Linked DNA regions of Homo sapiens: all the other regions are linked to region 1. Evidence: fine-mapped expression QTL. A gene starts in region 1. Each other region holds a variant in brackets. All regions are shown on one strand. Distances are from middle to middle.

What was found. PIP is the estimated chance that this variant, and not a neighbour inherited with it, causes the effect.
Region 2: its variant is the best candidate, but not a certain one, in a credible set for the expression of CUL1 in whole blood (INTERVAL, PIP 0.87).
Region 3: its variant is the best candidate, but not a certain one, in a credible set for the expression of CUL1 in whole blood (INTERVAL, PIP 0.54).

Annotation. Positions count from the first base shown.
Region 1 is chr7:148,695,533-148,701,828 of GRCh38, reverse strand. It overlaps CUL1 (cullin 1), which reads right to left and starts at 2,926. Exons shown (of 22, transcript NM_003592.3): 1 at 2,800-2,926. RefSeq lists silencers at 1,922-2,021, 2,322-3,351, 4,012-4,071 and enhancers at 1,899-2,624, 3,692-3,741.
Region 2 is chr7:148,605,757-148,612,052 of GRCh38, reverse strand. The region is part of intron 1 of C7orf33 (chromosome 7 open reading frame 33); the gene reads right to left. It overlaps LOC124901818 (protein GVQW1-like), which reads left to right and starts at 3,645. Exons shown (of 3, transcript XM_047421175.1): 1 at 3,645-3,772. The coding sequence starts at 3,645. RefSeq lists enhancers at 1-362, 363-863, 4,095-4,814. The variant A/G (reference allele first, on the strand shown) is at 3,159.
Region 3 is chr7:148,590,357-148,596,652 of GRCh38, reverse strand. C7orf33 (chromosome 7 open reading frame 33) reads right to left here and starts at 5,887. Exons shown (of 3, transcript NM_145304.4): 1 at 5,524-5,887. The coding sequence starts at 5,727. RefSeq lists a silencer at 2,530-2,730. The variant C/T (reference allele first, on the strand shown) is at 2,887.

The sequences.
Region 1 (6,296 bases):
TTTTTAAGGCCCTAATATTTTTAATTTGAAGAATGGCAAGTAACAACTCCTCAATTTAAAGTACATTCATTTTAATTTTCCATGCTGAAAGACAGACACCACTGGGTATACTGGGAATGACATTCTGATGAATGGCCCTCAGAGACCAAGGGATGGTTCCTCCTACAGCAACTTCCTATCCCACTCCAGCAGAACCATGGGGCTTGCCTCATCTACAAGGAGGAGCCTTAACTACCAAACTGCTTCATTGCAAAGGCAAGGCTGGATACTCAACCTGGGGGGAAAAACCTGATCGTGTTTCCAAAAAAACACCAAACACAAAAAGTAAAAACATCCACACCTTAAAACTAGTTTTAAGGGGGAAAAAAGTTAAAGTTTCACAACCTGTTTTCTTGGCACTTTCCCAGACTTCCATAGGTATAGAAAACCTGGGCATTTTTCTGTTAGGGCCCTGTACTAGATACTGGGGTGTTTCAGGGAGAAGGGAAGTGAAGAGGGAAGGGGGAATAGAAAAGGAGGGATGAGAGAGACGATCAATTTTACTCGAGAAGTGTATAATAAAGCTTGAATTCTTAACCGGCTTAAGCACAACGACTGTGTTTTCTGTAGCCAAAAATCAGCGCATGTTTTCAAACGTTAAGTTTAAGTTAGAATTATTCCAGAAAACTCATTCATTAAAAAAAAGCAACTGAGGCACCACCACAACCAAGTTCTGTTACTCTGGGGACGCAAAAACAAATAAGGAATATCTCCTGCGCTGGAGGAATTCACAATCGGAAATGTATGGGAAATAAGGCTGTCATGTAGTTAATTACAGCTAGAAGATAATATTCAGTAAGTGGCAAGAGTCTAATGAACTGTAATATCTAAGGAAACCATGCAGAATCAGCTCAGGCATGCGTGTCTGTCTTCTGATGTGGTACACACATTAGGAGTGGGGGGTGGGGCTGGCTATAAGGACCTGAGCATGTGGCTCTCAGGGAGGGAGGCTTTTATAAATTGGTGAAAAACCCTAGCATATCTAAATTTGGTTTGTTTTTTGACAAAATCGTTTTTAAAAGATGAAGCCAATGAGAAAAAAAGTTTAACATATTTAGAAAGCAATTCAGCCATCCCTCTCAAGCTTAAGGAACACTCTCCTGAAACCTCCAAAAATGGGCATTAATAGAGTTAAAGCGAGCCAGTCTTGTGTTTGCATGCTTTGGAATTTGAAATGTAACGCAACTATTTCGACTCACCATGGAAAACAACAAATAGAACCTTCAAGTAAAACATTTTTCAATATCCAAAAACAAACCTTCTTTAAACAAAGAAAAATCTCATCTCCAAATATCTTTTTCAAACAGAATGACTGGTTTTACATTTTAAACATCATTACATATTTTACTACGTAATACACTCTCCAGGATTTCAGAAAATCGGGTACATTTTCGGGTGCACCATGAAATGAAGTGTTAAACTTAAAACTGCACACACTTCTGCGAGGCGTTAAGCTATGCTTAGGTCCTAGAAGCTCATGGCTTGAAGTAAAAAAGGAATCTAGTTCCTCTTCTGCCGCTTCGTTAAGTGCATTCCAAAAAGTGTGATCGTTTACTCCACTCAGAACTTTTGACGATTTTAATGCTACTACAGGAAAGAGCAATTACACAGAGCAAACAAATATTTAAGTAGACTGCAATTCAGTATTTGCGCACTTACCACTAACCCCTACTACGAACCAGAAGCAACCAAGAGTGACCCAATCGGAAAAGAGAATCCTCTTTTTGGCAAAGCCAGCCAGGGAGAAAACCCTAACTTTGGGGATTCATTTCAAGGAATGTCTACAAGCATTCCTCTCTTTCTTATCTTATGTCTGCGCTACACAATACTGCACGGGTGGCAGAAACGGGGGTCTTTCAGATCTTAAGGGAAAAAAAAGCGACGACCCCCGAGTCTGGGGACCCCAAGTCCCAGCGGCCTGGCGGGCGCACGGCTACCCTCAGGGTCAGGGCGCGCGCTCCCGTTGGGACCGGGGGCGCGCCGAGGCCGCAGCGCAGGGCCCGGCCCGACTAGCGAGCGATAGGCGGGCGCCGGGGGGCTCTGTCCGGTTCGGCCGCCGGGCTAGCATCCCTGCGCGCATGCCCCGGCCCGCTCTCCCAGGAGAACGGGGCAAAAGGGCGACTGTTACCCAATAATAGCGCCCTGCACGTTCGCAACAATGCAGGCGGGGAACCCGAGAGCCGCGGGCAGGGAACCGGAAAGCGAGAGAGCCCGGCTCCGCGGCTGCTCCTGCGCTTGAGCCCAGAGCTCACAGGGGAACACGCGTCGGCCGGAAAGCAGCGCCGGGAAGAAGCGTGGGCGCGAGGGGGCAAGGGCACGGGTCCCGGCGTCCCGCGGAGGTCGCCTCACCAGGCGAGGCGCGGACGCCCGAGCCGCCCCGGGCCACACGTCGGCCCACCCTCCGAGAACCCAGCCCGGTCGCGGCGGGGAAAGGGGCCGGCGCCACCAGGCCGCCGCCTCCAGGCGCGATGAATCGTGCTTTTTCCCAGTGCGTAGTCCAGGCCTGGCCGCCCCGGCCCGTCCGGGGTGACTCAGGGCCCGGCCCCGCTCGCTCCTCTGCCACCTTCGGCGTCCTCCGCCCACGAGTCCCCCGGCCCGGCCGCCATTCTGCCCGGCCGCGTTTCGGCGGCTCAGGCCTCGCCAGGCGCCTGGTTTCGGCCGTCGCGGCCCGAGTCACTGCGACACCGCGGCTCGGGGCCGGGCCTGCGCCGCCGCCGCCGCCGCCACCTCCTCTCGGCCCCGGCGGCTGCCGACACTCACCCGCATCTCTGTGGTGCCCCAAAGGCTCCCGCGACGCCTCCGCCTGGTCCCTGGGCCTGGGCCCCGGCGAAAGCCCCGTCCCGCCAAGGTCTAGCTGCGTCCCTCAGCTACCGGGGCTGCCCCGCCTGGAGCTGCGTGCGACACGGCGCCCGCCTCCTCCTCCTCCCCTGCCCGCCCGGCCCTCCTCCTCCCGCCGCCGCCGCCTGCACCACGCAACCTCCGCCCTCTCGCCTTCCCTGCGCGGCTCCCCGCCCTCTCGGCCTCACCGGCTCCGGCGACCGCGGGGGAGAAGCTGTTGGGGGAGGGCCGGAACGCACCGCCATCGGCGTCCGGGGCGGGGGAGCCGGGAAACCGTCGTCGCCATCGCCCCGCCAGCCCGAGGCGCGGGAGGGGCCCGGAAAGCTCCCTCCCGCCCGCTCGCCGCTGCCGGCGGCCCCGGGGGCGCCCCTTCCGCGGCCGAGGCCCCCGCTCGCGTGGGGAAGCTTCTACCTGCGAGCCTGCGGCCCCTGCCCCCGGCACCCGAGACATCCCCGACCCGGCGCGCCGGATTCTCTGCCAGGTTTTACAGCCTCCCTCGCCTTGGGACCGCCGCGGAGGACCCGTTCCCGCCACTTCGGACCTCGCGAGCGGGGCTGAGCTGCTTGGGTCGGGGACACCACCAGCCTCTGGAGAAACGGCCCGAAGCACCCCGAAGAAGAGGGGGTCCCAGTCCCCTGCCCCTCCCTTGTGCGCACCCCCACCCCCAGCTTGCCTGGAACCTGACTCCACACCTTTGTCGACCGGGACAGGGACTGGGGGTTGCACCCCAGATCAGAAAGTCAGAGGTGGCCCTCCGAATCGGCGCGGACTTCCGAGGAACCTCAGCCAATTCTCGACCCCCTTACCACCTGCAAGGCCTTAGGAATCGGCTCCAGAAAGCTCGAGCTTATCTGCGTGTTTCGTTTTAAAAATCACTTCTAAGATAAAACCTAACTAGGCTTTCCCCTTCAGACTTTCAGTAACTCCTGTTTGGCAAATTTTGACATTCACTCTATCCTTCGTCTTTGTAAGGACATATCAAGACTTAGAAGGCTTTGATTACACATACGGATGGCATGAGTCGTGATATAAAATAGTATTGTTTTCACGTGTACTTCGAAGTCATCTCATTTGAAATTAACTGTCATAATTGACTATTTGGAATATTCAACCTAAATACTACCCGCTGCTGTGGTGACGGGGGGTGGAGGAAGCGTGGTGGAACCCCAACACCTAGTGAGGGGTGGCTGATTAATACCACGGCTCACAACATAACAGAGCGGCTCATTCCATGAACAACCCCGGGGGGATTTCGAATTCTATCATCTGGGCAAAAGATGTGATGAGTGTAACTTCCTGTTTTCTCCAAACTAAAACACTACGCAGATTCCTGTACCGCTCTGGGACAGAAATCCTCAGCCAGAGCAGAGGCCGTCCCCAGAGTCCACACTGTTTCCTGCATAAAGTGGGTTATCTCAGAAGAAACATCCCACTGGTCTGTGTGATCCTTCTATTGAAATGTGGTCTTTTATCTACATCTAAGTATCTCTAGAAGTAATGCGTTTGTATGTACTTGTCACTCAGATATGTAATCCCTTAATTTGTGCGGGGTTTTGGGGTGTGAAAAATTCTTGGTTTATATCCTACACTTTTAAATAACCTCGTCAAAACTTACATGTATTTAACACCTTTTTTTGTGAGCACATGGTAAGGTTGGAAGTAAAAATGGAAGGTTTATCCCTGTGGCCCATGTTTTCCAGTGTACCTATGTGGGGTTTTAAAAAAATGTCCCAATTTCTTCCTTTTACTGGAGACTGCGTTTTTTAGACAACAGCTTATCTTCCTATTCCCTAACCAGTCTTCTCCAATCTTACCATTCAATATAGCCTCCTTTTCTGTGACTTCCTCCAGCTGAATAGAAGGGCTGAGTGGGTCAACCTTCCCTGTATTGTTTGTTTCCTCCACCCTCTCTTTTTCCTTAATAGCAGTATTTGGTCCACCCACACCACCCTCTCTCTTCTCACTGCCTCCATTCCTGGTTCTTAACTCCTTTCTATTCTTTACTCTCCACCTGCCTACACGATCATTCTTAGCAGCAAATTTATTCCATCGACTTTTACGTCCACTTAACATCCAGATTGCATTTACTTTGCGCAGATAACCTTGCCGCCTACCTCACAAGTCAAGGCCACCTGCTGCTCTCTTTCTACTTTAAAACATCCTTCCTCCATCTTTACCCCCCAACTCAGCAAAATTGATGTCTCTCTCGGATGACCCAAAGTTTGGAGGGATAATTAATTTGATAGATGTCAGAATCAAAGTTCAAAACAGTCTCAACAGGCTACAACATTAGGCCAAAAGCAATGAAATAAAATATAACTTTCAAATCTAAATATGATGTACTAGCTGGAAAAGCCCAAGTTTTAGATTTTAGACCTTGGTTTGTATCTAGTTACCCAAATTTGAGTCATATCCAGTAACTCAAATTACTATCTTTTGCTCTAGTAAGGTCAACTGTTAATTTGAGATAAAAATACCTACTTCATAAGAGTGTGAAGAGTAATTTATTTATAATTCCCACGTAATTCGTGGAACATTCACCAACCATTAGTTCCCCTCCCTTCCTCATCGTCCACAAAGTGGTTGTCTCTGTTGCCATTCATAACACATTCTTTAATTCATACAGACCTGGAAACAGACTCAAAATCCTGGCCCGTTCACCTTGTATCCCAGAGCTGTCACCATCGTAGAGAAATCGTTTGCCTCTTTTGGGTCAGTCATTATCATCATCATACCCATTTTTTCAATGAAAAAACCTAAGGCTCAGAGATGTTAGGCAATTTGCTCCAAATCACTCAGCCTGATCAGTGGCATAACCTGACCCAGTGACTCATGATTCTGTGTATATCCACTCCTTTACTAAGATATTCTCCCACACTTATGTTGGTCCTTTAGCCTTCTAAATGCTTTTCCTGGTTCTTATCTCTTTATCCTTCCACTTGTGTCCTGACTGATGGCAGATTATTCCTTCTAAACTGATACCTTCATCATTATAATTTTGTCCTTTCAAGCTTCAGTGGTTCCATATTGTTTATAGTGTTCAATCCAAATTTGGACCTGGCACTTAAGGTTTACCAGATCTTGTCCAAACTTGCATTTCCAAATTTATTTCCTGCCACTTCCCAGAAGGAACTCTCAATGCCATCCGGTCCTGTTGGTTGTACTCACTGGCCCACAGATGAGCTGTGAGTCGCCATTTATGAGGGCCTCCTTCAGTTGTTCCCTTAACAGATACCATTTCCCACTTCTTTCCTCCATCTCCAAATCATGCTCACTTTTCAAGATCCAGCTCACACCCCCTCCCAGGAAGCCCACCTTACACCTTCTACCCAAGCTTTGTGATCTCTCCCTGATTGCCTGTTCACATGTGCCTTTAAACTAGGTGGTCTGTGCTGTGGGGTGAGAGACAATTTCCTAAG
Region 2 (6,296 bases), 90 kb after region 1:
AATGAAGCCCCCAGGGCTGGCAATGCTGCAAGGTTGCTATTCCAGTGTGGTGGACAGGGAGGGAGCAGGTACTGAAAGCTAGTGAAATGGGAGCGTTCCCTGATTCCCCCTGCAGCACATGCAACACAGGTGTGGCTCACCTGCTTGGTTGCCCTGCAGCTCAAACCCCTAGGGGGAGCATGCAGACTGGCAGGTGCAGATGCCGGGATGAATGCTTTGGGCTCTTGGCCCCGCAGCAATGTCTAGGGGTGGGTGTCTGCAACTCCCAAAGCCCAGGTGGGCACGTGTAACCCAAGCTCTTTCAGATTTGCCATCTGCAGATGGCTTGTGTGCTAATCAGCTCAATGGACCCTCTGCCTTATTGCAAGGGCAGAGGGCCAGTGTGACAGCCTCTGTTCCCTGAGCTCTGGCCCAGTGTCCCAGAAGAATCGGATCACACATGGGCTCGAAGGATAAGTGCAAGTTTTTATTGAGTGATGGAGGCGGCACTCAGCAACATGGATGGGGAGCCGGAAGTTGAAGGGGTGGGGGAAATAATCTTTCCCTGGAGTTGGGCTGCCCAGCAGCCGGACCCTTCTCCAACCACCCCTGGCCGACCTTCCCTCGGCATCAAGACGTCCCTCTTTTTCTTCTCTGCTGCATCGTTCTGCTGTCACTGGTCTGCTGGTCTCGACATTCAGCTGCTTGTGTGTGTACCCACTAAGGTCTTGGGTTTATATGGGTACAGGATGGGGGGCTTGGTTGGCCAGGGTGGTCTTGGAAAATGCAACATTCAGTCATGAAAACAGGAGTGCCTGTTCCCACTTAGATCTGTGGCACAGGCTTGAGGGTGGAGCCCTCACCAGGGACCTGGCCCTTCTCTACCCAGCACTTCCCTGCCCAACTCCCATGTCACTAGTTATGGGGAAGGGCTGTTTGGGGAAAGCCATAGCTTTTGCTAGAGGAATATGGCTACTGCCCACCTACAGTCTGGCAAGGAGCACGCTGGAGGAATCATACCTCCAACTCTCTTTCCTCTCACTCTGTCATCTCCTGCCCATACCATCTTAGTCGAACCCAATTCACACCAGGAACAAGGTGGCCTAGTTGATACAGTCCATAAGGCCAGCCTCTGGGGCCACAGAACAAGAAGGTGGAGAAGAATGAGGGGTGGATTGTGGAGCAGAAGGAGAACATCCAGTGAAGTCACTAGGTGGTGAGTCAGACACTTTGTCCTTTTGGTGGGGGAGCAATTTACACTGAAGATAATGCTCTCATCTTGTTTTTTAACTAGCCCTGCCCCATTGCTGTCCCTTTACCCAGGAATGCTTGTCCCCCATACTATGTAAAATTTGATCTCTCACAAGGCTCAGCTCAGAAGCCACCTTCTTCTTGCTGCCATTCCTCATAATTTGCTCAGAAGTGATCTCCCTCCTCGGAAGTTGTATTAGGGTTCCCCAGAGCGACAGAACTAATAGGATATATATACACACATAAAATATTATATGAAGGGGAGTTTATTAAGTAATAACTCACATGCTCACAAGGCTCCACAATAGGCTGTCTGGAAGCTGAGGAGAAAGGACAGCCAGTCCGAGTCCCAAAACTGAAGAACTCGGAGTCTGATGTTCAAGGGCAGGAAGCATCGAGCACGGGAGAAAGAGGTAGGCTGGGAAGCTAGGCCAGTCTAGTCTTTTCACATTTTTCTGCCTGCTCTATATTCTAGCTGTGCTGGCAGCTGATTAGATGGTGCCCACCCATATTAAGGGTGGTCTGCCTTTCCCAGCCCACTGACTCAAAAGTTAATCTCCTTTGGCAACACCCTGACAGACACACCCAGGATCAATACTTTGCATCCTTCAATCCAATCAAGTCGACAGAATTAACCATCACAGAAGTCTTACTTGTGGATCAAACTTCCCACAAAGTGATTCTACCTTTTCTTGTTGTTTACAGATACCTCATATGACTCTCACTGTGCAATAAAGTCCAGATGGAACCATTTTTATTTATCTTTGTGCCTCTTGCAGAACCTGCACAGTTTGCTGATGTTACACAGTGCCTCAGCTCAGAATGGATTTGGGATCAGGCATTATTGAGTCTTCTTGGAATCTGCTAGTTGGAAGGGTCCTCAGATGTACTTCCGTTTTTAACTTAGCCATTTCAAGCTCCTACTCAGCGAAGACTCCCCCTCCAGGTGGGGGACACTGTTGGTAGCCCACTCAGCATTTCTCCTTCTTCCTGTAACAGAGGCCTGACTTTTTCCAACCCTCCACCCTCCACTAAGCGGCCAAGTATCAGAGGGAAAGCTTATCCTGGGCTGAAATAATTTAAGGATAATATGTTCCCTTTTGTCAAGAATTGGTTTAGAAATGGAAATGTGACCAAGTTGTGGCTGCAGAGCCTCGGGGAGAGATTTGCTTGTGATTTCCAAGGAAGTCCTTCCTCCCTCCTTAGAGAGAAAGTCCAGTTGTTATTGGCAGCCACTTTACACCTAGGAGGACAGCCAACTTCAAGATGAAGATGTCAGTATAGATTGTGGGCTGGGATTTGAAAATCTGAGCTGTTGCTAACATCACTGAGGGTAACCTAAAGTCTGCTTTATCTCTGAAATTCTCTTTTTATGAATAAGTATATTTCCTTTTTGAAAAGACCTTTGAGTTGGGGTTTCTGTTACTCTGTATGTGAAAGGAGGCCCATATGCCCTGCCATTGTTTTCCTCTTCAACTCTGCTGATATAAGAGCCAAAATATAATTGAAGAGCTCTATGAATGTTTAGACTAGCTCTGTGCCCAGGAATGTAAGAATGGTTTGTAACAGAGACCCTGTCAAGCCTGAAACATGATATCTCATTTTACTAGTAGCTAGTACTCAGGGGGATGGGAGTTAGTACTGTATTTATTCCAGAATCTTGTTGATGTGCTACCTCTTCTCCATTACATTGGGCCTGATTTTTTTTTTTTTTTTTTTCAAAATAACGTCTTTGCAACGTGAAAGGTATTTTCTATTTCACACACATGAAAACCCCTTTGCTTCCTCAAGGTAAGAATGAACCTTAAGCTCTTATCCCAGGTAGATCAGCAACAATATTTGCCAAAGCAAAGCCATGTTTCCAAAAGAGGCCTTTCCACCCAGCATTCTTAGCAGGACCTGATGCTTCACACTAGGGAGGCAATAGG[A/G]CTGTTTTTACAGCAAATGGACAAGCCACATTCACAGTGAGATTTGTTTTGCCTTTCCTTGCAATTTATTTATTTCCTGAGACAGAGTCTTGCTCTGTCGCCCAGACTGGAGTGCAGAGGTGTGACCGTGGCTCACTGCAACCTCCGCCTCCCAGGTTCAAGCGATTCTCCTGCCCTCAGCCTCCCCGAGTAGCTGGGACTACAGGCATGCGCCACCACGCCTGGCTTATTATTGCATTTTTAGTAGAGACGGGGTTTCTCCATGTTGGCCAGGATGGTCTCGATCTCCTGACCTCAGGTGTCTGCCTGCCTTGGCCTCCCAAAGTGCTGGGATTACAGGCATGAGCCACTGAGCCACGGCAATTTAGATGGGAAGTCAAACCAGCTCTTAAGTCCATGTCGAGTGATTATTGGAGTCACTTTGGCAGGCAAGGGGAGGGGACTTATTATTATTATTATTATTTCGAGATGCAGTCTCACTCTGTCGCCCAGGCTGGAGTGCAGTGGCCTGATCTCGGCTCACTGCAACCTCCGCCTCCTGGGTTCAAGCGATTCTCCTGCCTCAGCTTCCCAAGTAGCTGGGACTACAGGCGCGCACCACCATGCCCAGCTAATATTTTTGTATTTTTAGTGGAGACGGGGTTTCACCATGTTGGCCAGGATGGTCTTGACATCTTGACCTCGTGATCCGCCTGCGTCAGCCTCCCAAAAGTGCTGGGAATACAGGCGTAAGCCACAGCACCCAGCCTGGGGCTCATTATTGACAGAATTTCTGGTTACCTAATTAGCAATTTCCAAGCACTTGTCTTTCTGGGTAGAAAGATCTCATTTTCCTTCATCTATTTTTTTAAGCAGGAATGGACAAAGCCTTTAATTGGCGTTTGAGAGGGAGTGAGGTAATACGCTGGAAGTAAAGGCAGAGATTGAAGGCCATTTTATCGGGCACCTGTGGCTGAAGAATTGAAAAAAATCATCAATTAGGAAAGGGAGAAAACTAGGGGTTTGGAGCCAGGAAAGAAGGAAGAAAAATGTATTAAGAGGAAGAAAGAATATAGGAATACAAAAGAGTATAAGTGTCAGGCTCGCCTGGGTACGATTAAAGAAACATATTTAAACCCGATACGCTTTCTTGTGGTAACAGACAAAAAATACGTTTGTTGGTGATTCCTAAGTGAAAATATCCTGCAGGACTTTTTTTTAAGGTTGGTCAAAAAACTCAAAGAAAAATATTTTTTGAGTCATATTTTCTAAAGGCTGTGGTCTTCTGATCAGTCAGATAGGAAGCATTTATTGCCTAAAATCAAGCAGGAAGGATCTGTTCTTTTTCTGAAGTCCTGTAGTGGCATAAAACTGACCTCCTAAGAAATTCTTCCTTGTCTCTTTTTAATCAATAAATCTACATTCTAGGGAAATTGACCATTGCTTCCAGACATGTGTGGGAGTCCAGAACATGCCACTCCAAAAGGAGGATTGTCGAGCTGAAGACAATTAAGAAGAAACAGATGCAGGAAAGCTCTCTGCCCTCCATTTGCTTAAATGCAGGACAGAGATTTACAAGATAAAAGACATCCTGCCCCTGTCTTTTACCAGGGAGAACAAAGGTTAACCACTGAAGACAGTTTTAGACCATTATCTGCCAGGAGTAGGAGCCAGAGGAATCTACCTGAACATGCTTTACCAACTCGCTTTTATCTGCCGGTTACTTGCTTCCCCGCAGAGAAGTCCCCTCTAGAGACCCAAAGTCCTTTTCCTTTGTCCTGTCACTTCTCTAAAAATCACTATTCTTTGTTGAAGATGCTATACAAGCTGGAATTCAAAGCTATTTCTTTGAGAACTACTCCTTCCCTGGGTGTCTGCCATGAGAACTACTCCTTTCCTGGGTGTCTGCCATGTAGATGTGAAATATACATGTAAATAAACTTGTTTTTCTCGTGTGTGTGTGTGTGTGTGTGTGTGTGTGTATTTTTTTTTTAAATGGGGTCTATTCCAACTAAGAACCTTATGAGGTGGCCAGACGCGGTGGCTCACGCCTGTCATCCCAGCACTTTGGGAGGCCAACGTGGGTGGATCACCTGAGGTCAAGAGTTCGAGACCAGCCTGGCCAACGTGACGAAATCCCGTCTCTACTAAAAATACAAAAATTAGCTGGGCATGGTGGTGGGTGCCTGTAATCCCAGCTTCCTGGGAGGCTGAGGCAGGAGAATCACTTGAACCTGGGAGGTGGAGGTTGCAGTGATGCAGTGAGCTGAGATCACGCCACTATACTCCAGCCTGGGCAACAGAGCAAGACTCCGTTTTTGTTTGTTTGTTTTTAAAAGACCTATGAGGATTGAGGAAACAATGATTTTTCTTCCCCTACACATGATTTTGTGTCTGCTGCATATTTTTTTTTGTTTGTAATATCAATGTTTCTCAAAGTGGTCTGTGGGCTACCAACTTCAGCATCACCTGGGATGCTTGTTAAAAAGTATATGTTGTAGGTTCCACACCCGCTGCAATGACCCAGCATCTCCAGAGGTGAGGTATTTTTGACAGTATCCCAGATTTTGATAAATTCTAATGTTGAGAAACAGTGGTCTAGATTTTAAGACAAGATCCATGTCATTTATTTTTGTTCCCTTCTGATGCCTAGCACATAGAAGGTACTTGATAAATATTTTTTGGAGAGATGAATCTAAGAAAAGTGTAACTGTCTAAAAACTTGCCTCCGAATTTCTTTACTGTCCTGTCCCTACCTATCTGCAGAGCGAGCCTTATCTGTCTGTTCATAATCTTCTGCATGTTGGGATTTGTGGTGGTGATGGTGGGTGCAGCAATGTGAAAGGCATTAGGAGCTTGTCTTGCCCAGATGATTCCTGCAGGATGAACATGGCTGGGCTTCCATCTGTTTAAGCCTCGTTCTCAGGCCATTCTGTTTATCCTATAAACCACCCAGGATCATTTCAAGAAGTTAGTTTTCTATTTAAGTTCACCAGTGTAGTCAGGGTCTGGCCAAGAGATAGTATACACACAAGTTAGCTGAACAGTAAGAATTTAATATAAAAAGTGTTAACTAGGTAAAAATGTGTTCATTATAAAGTTGTAACAGGATAAAAAGAGAACTCTAAGGTCTCATAGAGGTAGCAACTGCAGCGTCCA
Region 3 (6,296 bases), 110 kb after region 1:
GGCAGTTTCCCCCATGTTGTTCTGATGGTAGTGAGTAAGTCTCATGGGATCTGAGGGTTTTATCAGGGGTTTCTGCTTTTGCGTCTTTCTCATTCTTTCTTTGCCTGCTGCCATCCATGTAAGACGTGATTTGCTCCTCCTTGCCTTCCACCATGATTATGAGGCTTCCCCAGCCATGTGGAACTGTAAGTCCAATTAAACTTATTTCTTTTGTAAATTGCCCAGTCTCAGGTATCAGCAGCGTGAGAACAGACTAATACAGCAGTGAATGAGACTGTAACAGAAGATGCATGACCTTATGTATTTGTCCAAACCCACTGTAATCTAAACTATAAACTTCAGGTGATAATACATCAATGTTGGTTCATCAGTTGTAAAAAATCCACCATTCTGGTGGGGGAAGTTGATAGGGAGGGAGGTTGTGCATGTGTGAGGGCAAGAGGTACCAGAAATCTCTATTTTCTGCTCAGTTTTACTGTGAACCTAAAATGGCTCTAAAAATATAAAGTTTATTATATAAAAGTATATAAGTCCACATTTCTGTGAAGGCAGTTCTTTTTTTAAAACACGAACTCTGCATCAACTGCAGAATAGAGATTATAACTGGAATGTTTAATGTTAACCTAAAATATATTTGAAAAAAAAATTTAATTGCACACAACCTGTTGCAATTTTGTAGTTACTCATTTTCTTGCCAGTATTCTCAGTAATCTGTGATCATGGTTAAACATTGGTTAATGTGATAAATTTAATGGTTATGACCTGGGTAAGCCACAGCATCCTCTCATAAAATGAAGTCCAATCAGCTTTAAGGTCAAGGTAAAAATAGGAATAGCATAGGTTAAAAGAAGCAAGCAGGCCAGGCACAGTGGCCTGCTTGAGATATAGATATATATATATATTATATCTATATAACATAGATGTATATTATATATAATATATATAATATGTATATCTATATAATATAGATCTATATTATATCTATATAATATAGATCTATATTATATCTATATAATATAGATGTATATTATATATAATATATATAATATGTATATCTATATAATATAGATCTATATTATATATATTATATAGCTATATGTTATATATAATACAGATCTATATTATATATACTATAGCTATATAATATATAATATAGATCTATAGTATATATAATATATAATAGCATATATATAGCTATATAATATATATCTATATTATATAGATATATCTATATAATATAGATCTATATTATCTATGATATATCTATATAATAGAGATCTATATTATATTTGATATATCTATATAATATAGATCTATATTATATAGATATATCTATATTATATATTATATATCTATATAATATATATCTATATAATATAGATATCTCTATATTATACATGATATATATCTATATAATATATATCCATATAATATAGATATTATATAATATACTCAGGAGGCTGAAGCAGGAGGATCGATCACTTGAACCCAGGAGGTCAAGGCTGCAGTGAGCCGTGAATGTGCCACTGCACTCCAGCCTGTCTCAAAAAATACAAAACAAACAAAAGAAAACCTGACCTGGTGAATATTCAGAAACTATTAAGTGAAAAGCTGGTGCTCATTGTTAGGTGGTCAGGACTTTCTGCTTCTTAAGAGTCCCTAATGATTCCCAGGGCCAAGCATGTTCAGATGGGGACACTGTCTTGTGGCTCACTGTTGTCTCATGTAAGCAGGAGCGGCTGGGAGTGCAGGCTGCAGGCTGTACTTGCTGTTAGGTTCCTGAACCATAACATTAACATAGACATTGTCCTTCTTTTGAATAGAAGACAAATGATCCACAGTGGTACCATGCCAAACCTCACTCTGTAAGGATATATTGGACTGAAATATATTGAATATATTCCCAAATTCAAATATATTGAATTTCATCATATTTTCCCTAAACCATTTGGTTTCACATTTCCCTAAACAATTTGGTTGGATTATATCTCCCTACAAACTGTCACCCTCCTTCTGCCAAGCAAATGAAATGATAACTGTTCTGCATTTTACTTGGGTGTCATCTTAGTACCCTTACTGGTAAGTTGGTATCATCTTTCCTCTTACTTCTTGTATTAGGCTGTTTTTGCATTGCTGTAAAATACCTAAGGCTGGGTAATTTATAAAGAAAAGAGGTTGGTCGGGCGCGGTGGTTCACGCCTGTAATCCCAGCACTTTGGGAGGCCGAGGCGGGCAGATCACAATGTCAGGAGATCGAGACCATCCTGGCTAACATGGTGAAACCCCGTCTCTACTAAAAAATACAAAAAATTAGCCTGGCATGGAGGCGGATGCCTGTAGTCCCAGCTACTCGAGAGGCTGAGGCAGGAGAATGGCACGAACCCGGGAGGCGGAGCTTGCAGTGAGCCAAGATCGTACCACTGCACTCCAGCCTGGGCGACAGAGCGAAGACTCTGTCTCAGAAAAAAAAAAAAAAAAAAAGAAAAGAGGTTTAATTGGCTCATGGTTCTGCAGGCTGTACAGGAAACATGGCGTCTGCTCGGCTTCTGGGGAGGCCTCAAGGAGCTTTCACTCATGACGGAAGGCAAAGTAGAAGCAGGCACATCGAACAGCAAAAGTGAGAGCAAGAAAGCAAGAGAAGGTGCCACACACTTAAACAACCCGATCTTGTGAGAACTCACTCACTATCGCAAGGACAGCACCAAGAGGATGGCGCTAAACTATTCATGACAAATCCACCCCCATGATCCAATCACCTCTCATTAGGCCCCACCTCCAACACTAGGGATCACATTCCAGCATGACACTTAGCCGGGCAAATATTCAACCATGTCACTTCTTTTCCAGCAGGCATCTCTCTGGGCTCTGACCCTTTCCTGTCAATCC[C/T]AGTTGGGAGTCTCCGTTTCTACAATCCCCTCCAAACAGGCTGTATCCCCCGACCCTGGCTTCATGCTCAGCCTTTCCTAAATGCATTAAACACCCAGTCAGAGGAAAAGCATTTTGACTTCAAATTAACATTTAAAATAAAAACTAACTTTAAAACATGTTATTATGAAGGCAATAGAGATTCTCTATTTAAAGAAATTCAGGCCAGTTGCAGTGGCTCACACCTGTAATCCCAGCACTTTGGGAGGCTGAGGCAAGCAGATGATTTGAGGTCAGGAGTTCGAGACCAGCCTGGCCAACATGGTGAAACCTCGACTCTACTAAAAATACAAAAAAATTAGCTGGGAGTGGTGGCAGGTGCCTGTAATTCCCGCTACTTGGGAGGCTAAGGCAGGAGAATTACTTGAATCCAGGAGGCGGATGTTGCAGTGAGCCAAGATTGAGCCATTGCACTCCAGCCTGGGTAACAAGAGCAAGACTCCATCTCAAAATGAATAACAAAAATAAAGAAATTCAGAACATTCTGAGCTTTGGAAAAATAATACGTAACTCATAGTGCCATCCATAGACAACCACTTTGAGACTTTGCTGTATCTTCCAGTGATCTAATTAGATTTAAATCGTGTCGGCCAGGCATGTTGGCTCATGCCTGTAATCCCAGGACTTTGGGAGGTGAGGTGGGTGGATCACTTGAGGTCAGCAGTTTAAGACCAGCCTGGTGAACATGATGAAACCCTGTATCTACTAAAAATACAAAAATTAGTAGGATGTGGTGGTGGGTGCCTGTAATCCCAGCTACTGGGGAGGGTGAGGCAGGAGAATCATTAGAACTCAGGAGGTGGACGTTGTAGTGAGCTGAGATCGTGCCATTGCACTTCAGCCTGGGTGACAAGAGTGAAACTCCATCTCAAAAAAACAATAATAAAAAAAAGATTTAAATCATATCTACCCTGCTGGGGCACAGTGGCTTCCACGTGAAATCCCAGCACTTTGGGAGGTTGAGGCAGGCAGGTCACCTGAGATCAGGAGTTTGAGACCAGCCTGGCCAACATGGTGAAACCCTGTCTCTACTAAAAATACAAAAATTAGCTGGGCATGGTGGCGTGCACCTGTAATCCCAGCTACTTGGGAGGCTGAGACAGGAGAATCGCTTGAACCCAGGAGGCAGAGGTTGTAGTGAGCCAAGATCACGCCACTGTACTCCAGCCTGGGCGACAGAGCTAGACTCCATCTCAAAAAAAAAAAAAAAATCCTATCTACCCTATATGCTCCACCCATGCACTTGTGGCATCCTTTAAAAGGAAGGTTTAGGCAGTGATAATCTTTTCTCACCTTCTTTTAAGCACATATACGTCATTGATTATCATTTATATTCATCATTCAGAGACTAATTGTATTGGTTCACATCAAAGTACCCCTGGCTGAGGAGGTATTTTCTTCTTTTTACTCTTCTTATGCTAAATGGGCTTTCCCTGACATGGGCTGTCTGCATCTGACCTTAGCAGCAGGCAGACACAACCCCCTTGCTGACCCTGCAGTTCATGCTGCTGTTCTCAGGGAAAGGTCATGAAATCCTCTCTGCCCTCGAATGACCAGAGTCATTCTTCATATCAGAAGATACTCTGAGCCTGTGGCATGTGTCAGTTTGGGGCACTGTGCCACAATGAGGGTGTGGGCAAATGGGAAGAAGCCAGGAACTGCAACATGGGAGAAAACAAATTAGGGCTGGAGAACTAGGTGGGGACACCTGTGGTTCCCATCAAACTGAACACCCAAAGCTGGAGATAAATACAAAGTGGGAGCTCATACTTTAACCAAAAATGCCTGCCTAGTGGGAGGCAGGGGCTTGGGGATCAGGAGGTGTCAAAGATCAAAGACAGGCAAAGAGTTAAGGATCCAGGTCTTGCTGGGCATGGGTGGCACTTCGGGATGTTGAAGTGGGAGGATCGTTTGAGGACAGGAGTTCAAGACCAGCCTGGGCAACATGGCAAGACCCCATTTCTACAAAAAATAAAAAAATTAGCTAAGCCTGATGGCACATGGCTGTAGTCCTAGCCACCCGGGAGGCTCCTCTGGGAGGATCACTTGAAGCCAGGAGGTTGATGCTGCAGTGAGCTATGATTGTGACACTGCACTCCAGCCTGGGTGACAGAGCAAGATACTATCTCTAAAACAACAACAACAACTCCTGGTCTTTAAAGCGAGAGAAGAGACAAGAATCTAGGCAAGGAGAAGGGAACAGGTGCAAAGCTTGTGCCAAAGGGTGACCAAGATAGAGGCTTCCTGTGGACCCATCTCCAGGGCAAAACATAGTCTGAGAACAAGCGCATTCCTTCTACCACACTGTGTGAAAATATACAATTTTTACGCTGGAATTTTTCAAATCAACATGACTCAGGCTAAACACAAGAATACTCAGTGGAGTGTTTTGTGAGGATTCTTTTCCCTAAGAAGATTCCAGGCCTTCTTTGGGGCAGTGAATTAATCTCTGTCTCTCTCTTTACTTCAATGTCGTTAAGCCCAGTTCCATAACACATAGTAGAGAGTCAAAAACATTCATGGATTGAGTGAATGAATTCTCAAGAGATACTGACTGACTCAAAGAGCAGTTGATTCATCTTAGAATCATTAACTTACCTTATGTCTTCCCGTGGCATATGACAAGTTAAATTGACCTGGACCGCCCCTAACGTGGACCCAAACAGCGACTGCCCTCCCACTCAGGCGAAGGTCAATCCGGCGCCTTGCCCCACTGGGCAGGAGGGCTTCACATTCACATTGGGGGCCTGGAAGTCTCCAGGGACACTCTTCAAGGCTGAGGCTTTGAACTTCCACTTGCATTTTGGCAAAGGTAATTACCTTTCCTGGATGCTGTCAAGGAGAGCGGCGCTTCACCACCAATATCTAAGATCAAGTCGCACGGATCCCCAGGGTCAGTAGGAGGATTCAGACACAGGCTGGGCGCCTCGCTCCTGACCACTGGATTGGCATCACCATAAGTAAGGTCACAGCTGAGTAGAAAATGCCTGAGGCAAAGTGGGGGTGAAAGAGGGGCCACCGAGCAGTGTGATAGGCAGCCCCTTCCGCCAGCTCATTATCCCCACCTGCTCCTGTCGTCTCCTATTAGAATCCTAATGCGAGTTTACGGAAAGTCAGCTGGAGCTTGTCCTCCATGTAATTCAGATCACGTTGCCTGCAGCTCTTAGGTACTCAAATAAACAGAAGGACTAATATTACTACTGAAAAAGTAATTAAGGGCATTCATTGTAAAGTAATAATGATTACCTCACCCTCACCATATGGCCAGAACTGATTAACACCTAGAAGAAATGATCTAAAACCTCTACAATCAGAATTAATGTCTCAGGTCATAATGAGAAACATTTTGTAGCGGGGTTTGGCAGGGAAGG